Linked DNA regions of Homo sapiens: region 2 is linked to region 1. The links come from fine-mapping of genetic effects on gene expression. A gene starts in region 1. The other region holds a variant in brackets. All regions are shown on one strand. Distances are between the middles of the regions. Region 1 holds the start of KIF11 (kinesin family member 11). Region 2 overlaps IDE (insulin degrading enzyme).

What was found.
Region 2: its variant is fine-mapped to the expression of KIF11 in whole blood (INTERVAL, PIP 0.96).

Annotation. Positions count from the first base shown.
Region 1 is chr10:92,591,523-92,594,545 of GRCh38, reverse strand. It overlaps KIF11 (kinesin family member 11), which reads right to left and starts at 1,416. Exons shown (of 22, transcript NM_004523.4): 1 at 1,094-1,416. The coding sequence starts at 1,170. RefSeq lists silencers at 1,012-1,081, 1,162-1,211 and enhancers at 679-1,430, 1,532-1,581, 1,612-1,801, 2,612-2,701.
Region 2 is chr10:92,554,166-92,556,665 of GRCh38, reverse strand. All of the region lies in intron 1 of IDE (insulin degrading enzyme), which reads left to right. Among named protein-coding and RNA genes, the nearest start is that of IDE, 19 kb to the left of the region's middle. The variant G/TG (reference allele first, on the strand shown) is at 1,169.

The DNA of each region.
Region 1 (3,023 bases):
CTGGTTTTATTAAACAACCAAAATAATTTTAAAATTTGCACTTGTTATATGCACTGCATTTTTAAATAAAAATCTTCAAACAACTAACTACTAACAGAAGCCCCAGAGTACAACAACTAGTAAGTGTCACTGGCTAGACTTAAGATTGCCACCCAATTTCCTCTCTGACACCTTGTTTAGAAACCTAGTCATCACCTTCGATATCCACAATTCAAGTTACCAGGGCTGAGTAAACAATAGCCTAAGAAAGTTTGTTGATACAAGTTTTTCTAAAAAATAACCTTTTAATTTTAGAATACTTTGGGGTTTACAGAAAAGTTGCAACAGCAACTGTTAACAGCCACAAAAACGGACACACAAAACACACATACTCAGTAAACTGTGGAGAGCCTCTAAAAAGTTGAATAAATCAATTCTAACTAAGCAGCAGTTTCTAGCTTATTTTAAAATTGGGAAGTTATTTGGAAACCAGTCAGGGGAGGGCCGAACACCCCTCCACATCCCTTTATCTCGAAATATCCGTTTAGTTTGGTCTATGAACAAACACGCAGATGAAAGGGAAAACTGCAGCACAATCAGAAATTTACACTAGCTTAACTTGTCTTGATCTTTTAAAAAACATAAACTCACTTTATTAATTTTTAATGTTTAAAGACAGAGATGTTTACTTGTTTAGTAGGGATGCAGAAAATATTGCATCTAGAATAAAGAGAACAGTGATTGATTGCTTTTTAGAGGTAATAATACCAACGTAAGTGCTTAACCATCTGCAAAATAGGTATTCAGTCTTACTTCCAAACTGACAAACTACATGAAGTAGCATATAAAAGTGACACCTACATCTTTATTGACTATAGTTTAAACATAAGAACGCACTTTTCAGTATGGAACAGTGATCAAATCAAACATGTTATTTTCTCCTAAAAACCACATACACACAGCAACCGGGTGTCATTTTTATTGAACAGAACGCGGAGAACCAAGAAACTGGGACCCTCAGGAAATGCAAATAAAATCCCTCTCCCTGGACCGCGCAGTAGGGGGCCCAGCAGCGAAGCCGCAGCGCTCGGAATCCTGTCAGCCCTCTCCCTACCTGCATCTCACCACCACCTGGATGTTCTTCCCCTTCTCCTCTTTCTTCTTCGCAGACGAATTTGGCTGCGACGCCATGACGGTCCCCGCCAAAAAATCAAGGCCCGGCCGCGGACCTGGGCGCTGTGAGGGGCGGAGGGGCTTGGCGGCCGACAGGGGCCGGAGTCTCCCTGGTCCCTCTCGGGCGCTGGCGTGGCCTGGAGGACCGACGCACGCAGGTCGGCGTCCCCGCTCTCTACCCGGTACTCTGGCCGTGGCGTTTGTCCCGCGCCAGTCGGAGCCGCCAAATCACTAATCTCGTCTCCGCCCGAATCCCCAGAAACTAAGCAACGACTCGGCGCCTCAATTTGAAAAAGAGACAGAGTAGCCGGACCAATGGCTGCGCTGGCGCGCAAGGCACCATGGGATGCAGTATCCTCACTGGAGCCCCGCCCCCGGAGCGTGGCCTACGGGAACGTAAAGAGGTGGTCTGTCTGCTTGCTCCGGAACTTGGTAGTCCAGAGCCGAGACGCTAGAATTGAGTGTGGAACTTTTAGCGTAGCGTGGCTCAACTTACATAACGTCCCTAGCCCAAAATTCCCTCAGCTGCAGAGAGGAAATAATAGTAACCATCTCAGAGGGTTAGGGTGAGAATTAATGAGCTTGTGGAAGTAAATAGATTGGAATATATGGTAAGCACTCGCCATGATTATAATTATTAGAGAATTGTAAGAGAGGGCAGTAGAAGCACAGAAGAGAGGTCCAAAGCGAGCCGCCATCCCGGAGGCAGAGACCAGAATAGTCTTTGTGTGTGTGTGTGTGTGTGTGTGTGTGTGAGAGACGGAGTCTTGCTCTTGTCACCCAGGCTGGAGTGCAGTGGCGCGATCTCGGCTCATTGCAACCTCCGCCTCGCAGGTTCAAGCGATTCTGCTGCTTCAGCCCCCGAGTAGCTGGGATTACAGGTGCGTGCCACCACGCCCGGCTAATATTTGTATTTTCAGTAGAGATGTGGTTTCACCATGTTGGCCAGGCTGGTCTCGAACTCCTGACCTCAGATGATCCACCCGCCTCGGCCTCCCAAAGTGCTGGGATTACAGGCGTGAGCCACCGCGCCCGGTCCAGAATAGGCTTGAAGAATAATTAATGTTGGGGCCCGGTGGCTCAGGCCTGTAATCCCAACACTTTAACGGGCCGAGGTAGGACGATAACTTAAGTTCCAGGAGTTTGAGACCAGTCTGGGCGACATAGGGAGACCCCCCTCCCCGCGCCTCCCAACGGGTCTCAACAAAAAATAGAGGGGAAAAAATAGCCTGGTGTGGTGATGCGTGCCTTTTGGTCCCATCTACTCGGGATGCTGAGGAAGAAGGATCGCTGAACACGGGAGATAGAGGCTGCAGTGAGCCGGGATTATGTCGCTGGATTACTCCAGCATAGGCGACAGAGCAATGCCCTTTCTCAAAAAGAAAATAATAATAATAATAATTAGGAAGTGTTAAGCGATAAGGCTACTACAGGTTCCAAATCGTGATGAAATGGACACTGGACGCCATTTGGAGGACTCTGAATTTATCCTTTAGTCATCATCTCTAAGTGACTCCAGGCAAGAAAGCAGGGTCCGCCTCGATTTTAGAACGACTGCACTGACCGAGTGACGCAGGCCGCGGGTGCGCTGCGCTCCCCGTTTCTGCGCGGCGCAGCGGGCGGTGGCATCTCAAGGAAGCTGCGCAAACATCCGCCGCCCCGGCCTACGGATCCCAGCATGCAGCGCTCGCTGGGGCCTGCGCGCCGTCGGTCACCTCCGGCCTGCTGCGGGAGAACTTTTCGGCGTCTTGGCAGTGCCTGGCGTGACTCGACCGCTGTAGGTGTGGTACGCCGCACCAGGAAATACTGAAACAGGAGCCTATTGTTATGAATAACTTTTAAAATCTTAAGGAAATTGAACACTTGAACAA
Region 2 (2,500 bases), 38 kb after region 1:
CTGCCTCAGCCTCCCGAGTAGCTGGGATTACAGGTACCCACCACCACGCCCGGCTAATTTTTGTAGTTTTAGTAGAGACAGGGTTTCACCATGTTGGCCAGGCTGGTCTCGAACTCCTGACCTCAGGTGATCACCTGCCTTGGCCTCCCAAAGTGCTGGGATTATAGGGGTGAGCCACTGCACCCAGCCTGATTTTCGTATTTTTTGTAGAGACAGGGTTTCACCATGTTGGTTAGGCTGGTCTCGAACTCCTGACCTCAGGTCATCCACCCGCCTCAGCCTCTCAAAGTGCTAGGATTACAGGCATGAGCCACTGTGCCCACCCAGTATTTTATTTTTTGATGCTATTATTAATTGTTTTCTTATTTTTAGTTTGTTCATTGCTACTGTATGGAAATACAATTGATATTTTTATATTCAAGATCATGTCTTCTGCAAATGGAGCTAATTTTACTTTTTTCTTTCTTTTTTTTTTTTTTTTTTTTTGAGACGGAGTCTCGCTCTGTCACCCAGGCCGGACTGCGGACTGCAGTGGTGCAATCTCGGCTCACTGCAAGCTCTGCTTCCCGGGTTCACGCCATTCTCCTGCCTCAGCCTCCCGAGTAGCTGGGACTACAGGCGCCCGCCACCGCGCCCCGCTAATTTTTTGTATTTTTAGTAGAGACGGGGTTTCACCTTGTTAGCCAGGATGGTCTCGATCTCCTGACCTCGTGATCCACCCGCCTCGGCCTCCCAAAGTGCTGGGATTACAGGCGTGAGCCACCGCGCCCGGCCTACTTTTTTCTTTCTAATTTGTACGCCGTTTATTTCATTTTCTTGCCTAATTGGTCTGTTTAGAACTTCCAGGACAGTGTTGAATAGAAGTGGCAAGAGTGGAAATCCTTGTCATCTTCTTGATCTTAATGGTAAAAACATTATCTGTCACCATTAAGTACGATGCTAGCAGTAGCTTATTCATAGAGTCCCTTTTTCAGGTTGAGGAAATTCTCTTTTATTCCTAGTTTGATCAGCATTTTTGTCATGAAAGAGATATACTGTATTTTTGAAACAATCTCATACTGAAAAGTTTTTATTGTACAATATAGTGCAAATAATTTTTTTCCTGAACCAATTACAGTAATTTGACCATTGGATACTTTAGTGTGATTTTCTTTTTTTTTTTTTTTTT[G/TG]AGACAAAGTTTTTTTCTTGTTGCCCAGGCTGGAGTGCAATGGCACTATCACGGCTCACCGCAACCTCCGCCTCCTGGGTTCAAGTGATTCTGCTGCCTCAGTTTCCCAAGTAGCTGGGATTACAGGTATGTGCCACCATGCCTGGCTAATTCTGTATTTTTAGTAGAGATGGGATTTCACCATGTTGGTCAGGCTGGTCTTGAACTCCTGGCCTCTGGTGATCCCCCCATCTCAGCTCCCAAAGTGTTGGGATTACAGGCGTGAGCCACTGTGCCCGGCCTCTTTAGTGTGATTTTCTATATCATCACAATACCATCAGAATCAGAAAATTATCATTGATGAATAGAAATGAGAGTGGGCATCCTTGTCATGCTTGTTCCTGATTATAGAGGAAAGGCTTTCAGCTTTTCACTGCTGAATACGTTCATTGTTTGCTTGTCTTCCATGGCTCTTATTGTACTGAAGTACACAATGGAGGTATTCCTTGTATACCTAATTTGTTGAGAGTTTTTACCGTGAAAGGCTGTTGAATTTTGTCAAATTATTTTTCTGCTCTATTTTTCCCCCCTTTTTTCACAGCTCCTGCATGTGGCATCTGAAAGCTATCTGTGAAGAGGTATTTTTCTGTTTGTTTTTTTTTTGAGATGGAATTTTGCTCTTGTTGCTCAGGCTAGAGTGCAAGAGTACAGTGGTGAGATCTTGGCTCACTGCAACCTCTGCCTCCCAGGTTCAAGCAATTCTTCTGCCTCAGCCTCCCGAGTAGCTGGGATTACAGGCATGTGCCACCACGCTTGGCTAATTTTGTATTTTTAGTAGAGACGGGGTTTTCCCATGTTGGTCAGACTGGTCTCGAACTCCTGACTTCAAGTGATCCGCCTGCCTTGGCCTCTCAAAGTGTTGGGATTACAGGCATGAGCCACTGCACCTGGCCATCTTTTTTTTTTTTTTTTTAAGACACTGTTGCATTCTTGTCAGCCTGATTGGAGTGCAGTGGTGCAATCATGGCTCACTGCAGACCTAAACTCTTGGGCTCAAGGGACCTTTCTACCTTAGCATCCCTGAGTACTTGGGAATATAGGCATGTGCCATCATGCCCAGCTGTTTTTGTAGAGACGGTATCTTGCTGTGTTGCCCAGGCTAGTCTTGAGCTCTTGAATTCAAGCCATCCTCCCACCCCAGCCTCCCAAAATGCTGGGATGACAGGCATGAGCCACTATACTTAGCCTTTTTTCTGCATCTATTGAGATGATTGTGTGGGGTTGTTCCCCCTTCATTCTGTTAATGTGGTATATCACATTTATTGATTTGCAATAAGTGTGTTGATGTTGAAC